2 separate regions of the Homo sapiens genome follow, and region 1 is linked to region 2. The links come from fine-mapping of genetic effects on gene expression. A gene starts in region 2. The other region holds a variant in brackets. All regions are shown on one strand. Distances are from middle to middle. Region 1 overlaps BID (BH3 interacting domain death agonist). Region 2 holds the start of BID (BH3 interacting domain death agonist).

What was found. PIP is the estimated chance that this variant, and not a neighbour inherited with it, causes the effect.
Region 1: its variant is the best candidate, but not a certain one, in a credible set for the expression of BID in prostate (GTEx, PIP 0.69).

Annotation. Positions count from the first base shown.
Region 1 is chr22:17,748,012-17,753,011 of GRCh38, reverse strand. It overlaps BID (BH3 interacting domain death agonist), which reads left to right. Exons shown (of 6, transcript NM_001196.4): 2 at 2,838-2,907. The coding sequence starts at 2,896. Among named protein-coding and RNA genes, the nearest start is that of MIR3198-1, 14 kb to the left of the region's middle. RefSeq lists an enhancer at 2,293-2,837. The variant A/G (reference allele first, on the strand shown) is at 2,370.
Region 2 is chr22:17,772,416-17,777,838 of GRCh38, reverse strand. It overlaps BID (BH3 interacting domain death agonist), which reads left to right and starts at 3,370. Exons shown (of 6, transcript NM_001196.4): 1 at 3,370-3,458. LINC00528 (long intergenic non-protein coding RNA 528) reads right to left here and starts at 549. Exons shown (of 1, transcript NR_103718.1): 1 at 1-549. RefSeq lists an enhancer at 35-514 and silencers at 3,242-3,341, 3,362-3,411, 3,432-3,501, 3,532-3,861.

The DNA of each region.
Region 1 (5,000 bases), 25 kb after region 2:
CTGGGTGACAGAGCGAGACTCCATCTCAAAAAAAAAAAAAAAAAAAAGACTGGGCGCGGTGGCTCATGCCTGTAATCCCAGCACTTCGGGAGGCCAAGACGGGCGGATCACGAGGTCAGGAGATCCAGACCATCCTGGCTAACACGGTGAAACCCCGTCTGTACGAAAAATACAAAAAGTTAGCTGGGCGTGGTGGCGGGCACCTGTAGTCCCAGCTACTCGGGAGGCTGAGGCAGAAGAATCCCTGGAACCCGGGAAGTGGAGCATGCAGTGAGCCAAGATCATGCCACTGCACTCCAGCCTGGGCGACACAGTGAGACTCCGTCTCAAAAAAAAAAAATGTCCCATTGGGGTACTCATCACAGCCCTGTCTTTAGTGGTGACAATGCTAAGCTATTCACATGCCCAACACTGGGGTTAGTGGTATTCACTGTGTATGTGACACACCAGCATGGGTTAGTGGTATTCCTCCATGATGTGACAACATCGGTATGGGTCAGTGGTATTCTGCTGTGTATGTGACACACCAGTTTGGATTAGTGGGTATTCTGCCATGCATATGACACTGGTATGGGTTAGTGGTATTTGCTATGTATTTGAACACACTGGTATGGGACTTCGGCCCTGAGCACTAGTGACACTTTGAGCTGGATGAGTTGTGGGTTTGAGCTGATGAGCCGTGCCCCCACTGCTACCCGCTACGTGCCAGGAGCACACCCCCCATAAATGTCTCCAGACAGCTCCAGATATTTCCTGGGTATCCAAGTCGCCCTGGCAGAGAAACACTGCATGAGACACGGCGTTAGGGTCTGGTGGGAGACTCACCACAGTGCCAAGGTGGCTGCAGTTTGCTTGTGACATGGGCGTGTATCTGAGTGTGAAGGAAGCTGGTTTTTGTGAGCTGCCTCCCGAGCTCAGAGGTGACAGTGGGCACTTTCCCCACAGAGACCCCTGAAGTTGTTCCTTGGAGAACAAAGTGGTGAGGGGCGGGGATTCCAGACCTTGAGGCAGAAGCTAGGGTCTGGTCCACTGTTCTGTGGACTGGGCAGTGGCCCTGGGAGGTGCCGTGGCCTCTGTGGCCTGTTTCCTGGGGTGGGGTCTGTCTTGCGCTTTGTCTCTTGTGGGTGCAGACTCCCCTTCCTCTGCTGTGGAGCCGGCAGATGGCCCCGGAGCCAGATCCTGGTGCCTCCCTGTCCACATGCAGCTCAGTCATTTGCTCTTGGTCCCTTCCTATGAAATGCACGGCCACACACAGCCAGGGTTTCTCCTGGGCTCCCCAGAGGGAGAGTAGGGTGCAGCCTGCAACAGTGCAGGGTCCCCAGGCCTGTGTGAGCCCCCAGGTGGGGAGGTGGGTGATGCGCATGTCAGTGCTACCTCCTGCCACCTCCTCTCTGCCTGGGCACAGGCTTTCTCCTCTGTTTGCTTTTTATTTCCTATGTATTCAGGAACCATGTGAAATTGCCAATGCTTGGTTTTGTCCTACAAAATGGCCATTTCATTTGGTTCAACCTGATATTGTGTCTACACACACACACGCACACACACACACACACAGGCAAATACTTTTTAAAACAGGATTATTCTATTCACAGTGTTCTGTAGAAATTTGTGTTCAGTCTTTTTTTTTTTTTTTGAGACGGAGTCTCGCTCTGTCGCCCAGGTCGGACTGCGGACTGCAGTGGCGCAATCTCGGCTCACTGCAAGCTCCGCTTCCCGGGTTCACGCCATTCTCCTGCCTCAGCCTCCCGAGTAGCTGGGACTACAGGCGCCCGCCACCGCGCCCGGCTAATTTTTTGTATTTTTAGTAGAGACGGGGTTTCACCTTGTTAGCCAGGATGGTCTCGATCTCCTGACCTCATGATCCACCCGCCTCGGCCTCCCAAAGTGCTGGGATTACAGGCGTGAGCCACCGCGCCCGGCCTCAGTCTTTTTAAGACAGCTTACTGTACTGATGCCGCACAGATCTTTTTTTTTTTTCGAGACAGGGTTTCACTCTCGCCCAGGCTGGAGTGCAGTGGTGCAATCTCCGCTCACTGCAGCCTCCACCTCCTGGGTGTAAGTGATCCTCCTGCTTCAGCCCCCCAAGTAGCTGGGCCCACAGGGCTTGCATCACCACACCTGGCTAATTTTGTATTTTTGTAGAGATGGGGTTTCACCATGTTGGCCAGACTGGTCATTCTTTTTGAGATGGAGTCTCGCTCTGTCGCCCAGGCTGGAGTGCAGTGGCGTGATCTCGGCTTACTGCAACCTCTCCCTCCCAAGTTCATGCCATTCTCCTGCCTCAGCCTCCCGAGTAGCTGGGACTACAGGCGCCCGCCACCACGCCCGGCTAATTTTTTGTATTTTTAGTAGAGACAGGGTTTCACCGC[A/G]TTAGCCAGGGTGGTCTCGATCTCCTGACCTCATGATCCACCCGCCTCGGCCTCCCAAAGTGCTGGGATTACAGGCATGAGCTACTGCGTCCAGCCGGAAGATTTAATTTTTTAATTGTCAAATCCATTCTCTCTCTCTATAAACATTTTACATTTTATGATAATAAAATAATTTGTGAGCCCACGGCCCCGTTTCCCTGATGCCTGAGGTCTTCCTGGGGCGGCATGGGAGGGCTGAATTCAGGTGCGGGGTCGGCCCCAGGGCACTGAGCGCCTGGGTGAGTATCTGGAATGAGGAAAACAAAGCTTGGCTCCCGCCAAGGAGAAAGAAACTCAGGATGCGGGGCTCAGGCCAGGACCTCGGCTCAGCCGCCATTTCTGGAGCACAGGCCAGCTTCGTCGTCCTCCCGAGGGGTCCTGACCAGGGCTTCCCAGGAGCGGCCGCCCACTCTGTGTGTCCCTTTCCAGGTCGCCACTGGGACACTGTGAACCAGGAGTGAGTCGGAGCTGCCGCGCTGCCCAGGCCATGGACTGTGAGGTCAGAGGCCAGATCCCCTGCGGGTGCCTTGTGGGGGGCGGGGTCGAGGGGTAAGGGCCTGCGTGTCCCCCACCACGCATCCCTGAGGGCTGAGGCTGAGCCCGCCTGGCCCTTACCACAGCTCGGCACAGACGAACCCCGCCCAGCCCCTTCACTGAAGCAGGCGGGAGCCGGGAAGTCCTACCTTTCCCTGTCCTGCGCCTTCCTCGCACTCCGCTTGTGGTGCAGCCCCTCCACACCGCGCCTGGGGCTAACTGCAAGGGCGAGGGGGCTTTGGGTTTAAGACCATTTAACAGCCATAGGCTGTGGGTCCCAGCACTTTGGGAGGCCAAGGCAGGAGGATTCCTTGAGGCCAGGAGGTCGAGGCTACAGTGAGCTGTGATTGTGCCACTGCACTGCAGCCCTGTCCAAACAAACACGAAAGAGATTTAAGAAGAAGAAAGGGGGCATTAGATAAGCACTTCATATAATTCTCTCAACTGTAAAAGCAAGACAATACTTACCTTGTCTAACCAATGCCATTGCTATGAGGAGCAAATAAATCAATAAAGGTCAAATAAAAGTACTGTAAACTGTAAGGTGTTTCAAAAATTTTTTAACCCACTGGATTTAAATTTCCCTTCATAGCTGGGCGAGGTGGCTTAGGCACATAATCCCAGTGACTTGGGAGGCAGAAGCGAGAGGATTGCTTGAAGCCAGGAGTTTGATTGAGACAAACCTGGGCAACATAGTAAGACCCCGTCTTTATAAAGATAAAAGCGGTGGAGTTCTGGGAGGGGAGCCCGGAGCCCCCGCCTTCAGCAGGACGCTCCCTGGATGCTTCCTTGTCTCTCCTTCCCTTTAAATGGTCTGGGGAGAGAAAAATCACAGCACACGGGTGCTCTCTCCCACCCGCTGCATCACATCCTCCTCCCCTCCCTCCTGCCGAATTCTGCAGCCTCTGGGCGCCTCACGCTGTCCTGGCAGCCTCTGGGAAGGCATCTGCGAAGTCTAATGCCTTGGCACTTAGTGACTGTGTCGCAGTTCCTGAGCATGGAGAGCACCCGGCACCCAGGAGGTTCTCAAGCTGCCCCTACTGGGGGTCCTTTCCAAAGGTGGGGACGGTGTGGATTTCAGCGTGGTGGCTGGAGGGCTGAGGCAGTGGCTCGAGTTTGATGTTAGTTACATAAACAGAGGAGATTGCAGGAGCTCCCCCGGCCCTGATCCAGGCTTGTTGTCAGTGTCCAAAAGACCACTCTGGGTGCCACTGTCCCTTCCCACCTGCCGCTGCTGTTCCGGCTTCGCGCTCTGGCGGCCTCCGCAGGTAGAACACCACCGTCACCCGCGCAGCGCCCTGACTCGCCGGAGGAGGCGCCTGCCCTCCCGCCCGCCTCTCCCCGGCCCCCTCAGTGAGGGAGGGTGGACGTCGCCACTCCCCTTTCTTGCCTTCGGAGTGAGGAAGCGGAGGCAGCAGTACGGCAGCCCGCCCAGGGCCACAGAGCTGGGGTCACAGCGAAACACTCCGAAACTTTCTTTTCAATTATAGGGTTCAGCCTTTTTTCCCATCATAACTTTAATTCTGTGTAGATACTTCTATTTTTTATTTTTATTTTTTTTTTTGAGATTGAGTCTCTGTGTCGCCCAGGCTGGAGTGCAGTGGCACGATCTCCGCTCACTGCAGGCTCCGCCTCCCGGGTTCAGGCCATTCTCCTGCCTCAGCCTCCCGAGTAGCTGGGACTACAGGCGCCCGCCACCACGCCCGGCTCATTTTTTGTATCTTAGTAAAGACGGGGTTTCACCGTGTTAGCCAGGATGGTCTCGATCTCCTGACCTCGTGATCCGCCCGTCTGGGCCTCCCAAAGTGCTGGGATTACAGGCGTGAGCCACCGTGCCCGGCCTTATTATTATTATTTTTTTGAGACGCAGTTTTGCTCTGTCGCCCAGGCTGGAGTGCAGTGATGTGATCTCCGCTCACTGCCAGCTCCGCCTCCCAAGTTCATGCCATTCTCCTGCCTCAGCCTCTCGAGTAGCTGGGACTACAGGCGCCCACCACCACGCCCGGCTAATTTTTTATATTTTAGTAAAGACGGGGTTTCACCGTGTTAGCCAGGATG
Region 2 (5,423 bases):
ACAGAAGGTGGAAAGGGAGAGAAGCTCAGCCCTTCCAGAGGGGATGGGTGGCTCAGAGCAGAAGGTGGGGATGCAGTTCTGGGGGCGCCATGGCCGAGCACCACAGACCCGGGACTTGCACAACAGAAGCGGGTTTCCTCACAATTCTGAGCCGGAAGGCGGAGATAAATGCGTGGGCACGGCTGGGTTCCCCGGACGCCTCTCTCCCTGGCGCAGAGACGATGTGTTGTTCTCCCCGGGTCCGTTCCTGTGTGGGTGTCCGCGTCCCCATCAGGACACCAGTCAGATAGGAGGAGGGCCATCCAGTGACCTCACTTCACCTTAATCACCTCTGGAAAGTCCCTGTGTCCAAGCACAGTCACGTTCTGAGGTCCTGGGGGTCAGGGCTTCAACTTACGAATTTTGAGAGCATTCAAGTCAGCCCACAACAGTGGACTCTGAAATAATCTTTTAGGAACTGGACTCCTCAAGGACGCTTTAGAAAATGCCGGCCTCGTTCTGTTGCAAAGGGGTAACTGAGGAAGAGGGGCTGAATTTTCACAGGAAGACGAGCCCGGTGGCAGGAAGTGACAGTGAGAAACTGCAGCATAAAGCGGAAGCAAAGGCCGACTGTGACTATGTGGTCGCCAGCTCGCCTTCCCCGTCAAACCTTGCTGGATTTTGTGTTTCATTTTCATTGCCAAAAACATCATTCAGGTCGGGTGCAGTGGTTCATGCCTGTAACCCCAGCACTTTGGGAGGCCGAGGTGGGAGGATTACTTGAGCCCAGGAGTTCAAGACCAGCCTGGGGAACATAGCAAGACCCTGTCCCAAAAAAAAAAAAAAAAAAAAAAAAAAAAGGCCAGGTGTGGTGGCACACGCCTGTAATCCCAGCACTCTGGGAGTCTGAGGCGGGCAGATCACCTGAGGTCAGGAGTTCGAGAACAGCCTGGCCAATATGGTGAAACCCCGTCTCTACTAAAAATACAAAAATTAGCCAGCCAATCATGGTGGTGGGTGCCTGTAATCCCAGCTACTTGGGAGGCTGAGGCTGGAGAATCACTTGAACCCGGGAGGCAGAAGTTGCAGTGAGCGGAAATCACACCATTGCACTCCAGCATGGGTGACACAGCCAGACTCCGTCTAAAAAAAATTTTTAAAAAATTAGCCAGGCGTGGCGGTGCATGCCTGCAGTCCCAGATACTTGGGAGGCTGAGGCAGGAGGATCACTCGAGCCTGGGAGGTCAAGGCTGCAGTGAGCTGTGATCACACCACTGCACTCCAGCATGGGTGACAGAGCTAGATCCTGTTTCAAAAAAAAAAATAAAGTCATCATTCTCTCATGTATGTGTATATTGTTTCATTTGTTAATTAAGGTATAATTTTACATACAGTAAAACTCACCATTCTTCGTGCAGAGTTCTCACAAAAGTGTACAATTGTGTGGCATCCACCACAATCCCTGTATAGAAGAATCCCATCATCCCCGGAATTTCCCTGGACCCTTCCATAGCCCCCCAGTCCGTCACCCCCTGAATTGTTTTCTGGCACCCCGCCCCCCTTTCTTTTTGAAGTGGTTGTTTTGCAGGAAACATCACCCTCTCTCATTTTACAAATACTGCAGACAGATTTTGAAGCCCAAAGCATCATAGAGGCAGCAGATCAGGACAGGGAGGATTGAGGCGGGGAGGCTCTACCCTGACTGTAAGAAGCACTTGAGAGACCTGCAAAAAGCCAACAGGAGAGGCAGAGACTGTGGGGGCCAATTGGTACAGGTCCTGCCCTGCATGACAGGGCCAGTGGCCCCCACAGTGCTGAGGATAAAATCCAACTGCTCATCCAGGCTGCTGGAGCCTCCTGCCTTCAGGCCACCCCACTGGCCTCTTGCCCACTGTGCCCCACTGTCCAAGCTCTCGCCTGCCCTGGGAGGGGCCCCTGCAGCTTCTTGTGCCCAGGTGCACGTCCCTCTCTTTTCCCATCTGGGCGCCTGCTGACATTGTACCATGAATTTGAACACCACCCTGCAGATGACCTGGCCTCAGTCCATGAAGTTTCCCTTTCGTCTTCTGCAGGGCACCGGCCCCTAATGCCATCTGACGGTTTCCCTGCTCACAGGATCTTCCATTTGTTAGCCCCCCAGAGTGCCCAGCCCGAGTGAAGAGCATGCAGGAAACAAGCCCCTGTCCTCGTGGAGGCTACATTCCGAGAGGGGAGGTAGGCAACACACACACAAACGACTCCGTGGTATGTCATGCTGCGATGCTGGCTGTGGAGGAAAATGAAGTGAGGCCTGGTGAAAGCCAGAGGCCATGGGGCTGCCGAGGAGGAACAGGGACAGGGTAGGATTTGCTTAGAGCAGGGCAGGTCGCGTGGGACTCTGCGGGCCACTGAAAGGAACTTGGCTTTTATTCAGAGGATGTTAAAGCGTGAGTGACATCCTCTGACCTTTTATAAAAGAGGCAAGAGTCTAGGGAGCCCGGGTAGAAGTGAGGGCGTCTGGAGGAGCCACAGTGGGCTCAGGGAGTGAGCCCACGCGAGGGCGCAGAGCAACTGGACGCTCCAACAGGGCTGGTGGAAGTGCCGAACGGTGTGCATCACCTTGGAAAGCAGGCAGTTTTTAATACCATGAAGCTCGTCCAGCCCTATGATTCGCATTTCCACTCCTAGGTATCACACTCAAGAGAAGTGAAGACGCCCACAAAGGGCTCTGCAGCAGCACTGCCGGTGAGAGCTGCATCCGGGGATGCATGGACTGGCCTGTCATTCCAGCACCTTGGGAGGCCGAGGTGGGAAGCATCGCTGGAGCCCAGGAGTTCGAGACCAGCCTGAGACCTCCAGAGGTGGAGACCCCCCCCCCACCACCTCCACTAAAAACTGAAAAAGAAATTAGTTGGGTGTGGTGTGCGCCTGTAGTCCCAGCATTATCTATATGTTAAACTGATGTTTTAAATCAGAGTTGATATCCAAATAATTAAAGAATAAACAACAAGCACAGGGACTGGTGAGGGGCTGGGCCAGATTCTCTGCAACCCACATGGCTTCACCCACTTTCCAAACCCCTGGTTCCGTGAGGACCTAGAATGACCACCCCAGACTGTTCCAGAAACAGCCTGGGGATTCTGAATGTTTCCCAGAGAATCATTAGGAATTATCCCAGCGGCGCTGGAGTAAGTGGCCAACTTAAAGTTGGACGACACTGTCTGAAACAGTCGCGTAAGGGGTAAGGGTGGAAAGCCTGGTTCTCACTGCGCTGCCGGCTCCCCGCCCCGCTCCACAGCCCCGCGCCGGCGCGGGCTCCCCGGGTCCCCGCAAGCCGCCGGGGGCGGGCCGGGGCGGGCCGGGGCGGGCCCGGGCGTGGGGGGCCGAAGGAGGAAGCGCGCGGGGCGCCATAAGGAGGAAGCGGGTAGTCGACCGTGTCCGCGCGCCTGGGAGACGCTGCCTCGGCCCGGACGCGCCCGCGCCCCCGCGGCTGGAGGGTGGTGAGTGCACCCGCGCCCCTCCCGGGGTACGCGCCGAGCCCCAGCCCGTGACCCCTGCCTGCCGCCTGCCCCGGCGTGGAGCTCAGGGCCCGCCGCCCGCCCTGGGCCCGACCGCGGTGGGAGCCAGAGGAGGGGAGGCGGGGGGTCAGAGCCCCAGGCCTCAGCAGCGACCTGAGGGCCGGGTCTCTCCCGCCTCCCCTCCGCCCGGGCGCCCTCCTCGGCGCGGCCGGCAGGTCGGTGCTGAGGGTCGGGTCCGCCTCGGAGGCGGGGAAGGCTTTGTTGTGTCCTCTCCACGTGGCCTGGGGATTCAGGGGAGGGGTGCGGGGCGCGGGGAGGGGGAGGGGCCGAGGCCAGCCCCGGAGAGGAGAAAACCCGCGGGCCTGGCCGGGTGCAGGCCACCCTTGCCGGCGGATCGGAATCCCCGCCCACACCGTGGTCTTTCCAGCACCGCAGACACCTGCCGGCTCCTCCCGAGCGGAGCTCAGGGCTGACAAAGCGCGGTCAGAGCGGCCGCTTACTGGGGCTCGCCCGCTCCTTAGAGCACTGGCAATGATGTGCGGATCCTCGCTGCTGCTGCTGGGAAACTGTTGAGTGGCTGAATGACCCCAGGGGACCCTGGGAGAGCTCTGAAGCCCTCAGCCACCAAGTGGCTGGGCTGGCAAGGGTTCATTCATTCATTCAACAAATACGAATGTGCAGCGGTGCTGGGGTCATGATGGCTCGGTGGGCAGCGAGGGGCCGGGCCGGCTGGAGGAGCACAGTGCGGATTCTGTAAGTGGGCTGGGGGCTGGGCCTTCTGCGGCTGGACCGGCCTTCACCTGCAGGCAGGGTTGGGGCAGGTGAGGAGCAGATGGACCCACCCAGAGCTCTTCCACCTTCTCAGGCTTGCACCCCCTTCCTGGAGCCTTATCCACACCCTCAGTCCTCGCTCTCACTGTGGGGGAGCTGCAGAGGATGCGGTTTTTCCACATTCCATCTCCACCCACAGGAGGCTTTGAGATGGGGGGAGCTCTCCTGGGCCTGAATGTGTGCCGTCCTGGGGCCCTGCAGTCCCCTGGGAGTGATGACCGAGACCAGATTCCCTGAGCTGGGGTCTTAAGGGTGTGGGGAGCGCAGAGGGATCCTCTGGCATCAGGAGTTGAGGTAGACAGAGCTCCAGGGAGGCACTGCCGGGAGGACGACCCTGGCCAAGCCTCTGCCTGCGGCCCAGGGTGTGCGTCCCTGCCCCTTCTGCCCCTCTTGCCCAGGGAGGGAAGAGGAAATGCGGGGTCAGCAGTTCGTGGCTGGGGTTTAAAGGCAGGGATCTCCCAGGACGGGCACAGGGAGCATGAGGAAGCAGCTCGTGTCTCTGTTCATGAGATGTGAGAGTGGTGACTGAGACGAGGGGTGCAGAGACCTGCCGTGGCTGGGGCGAGGTGCTGTTAGTGCTTCTGAGGAGGTTGGGCAGGATAGACGGTGGCTGTCAGGTGGTCTCAAGGTTGTGCAGGAGCTTGCCAGAGAGGGAAGCGGGGCATGGCCCCAGGGTGGTATGGGGGATTCTAGGGGGAGGGTGCCTGGGTGGGAAGGGGTGTCGCATGCCCAGCTCAGAGGCCTTGCTTAGGGGTGCTCACAGGCTCGGCTGACGTGAGGATGCTGATCGAAGGAGCTGAGGGTCCCACTCATTTGCAAGGGGGAACTGTCTGCCCAGGAGCCCCAGCAGTGCCCAGGCCCCTGGACTGACAAGGATGGATGAGGGTGATGGAGGCGGATGGACATTTGACACTGGAGCCTGCCTTCCAGGCAGAAGGGCCGTGAGTCATCCTCTCTCCGGTGCCAAGTGGAGGGGCTGAGCAGGTCCTCGACGTGACCGAGGACTGTGCCCGTTTTTTCAGGGGACCCGGAGCGCTGGCTCTGGCTGTCAGCCCATGAGAGACCTCCCTGCAGAGCTGTGGCCTCTGGAAATGCTTCCTGTCGTTGACATCTGGT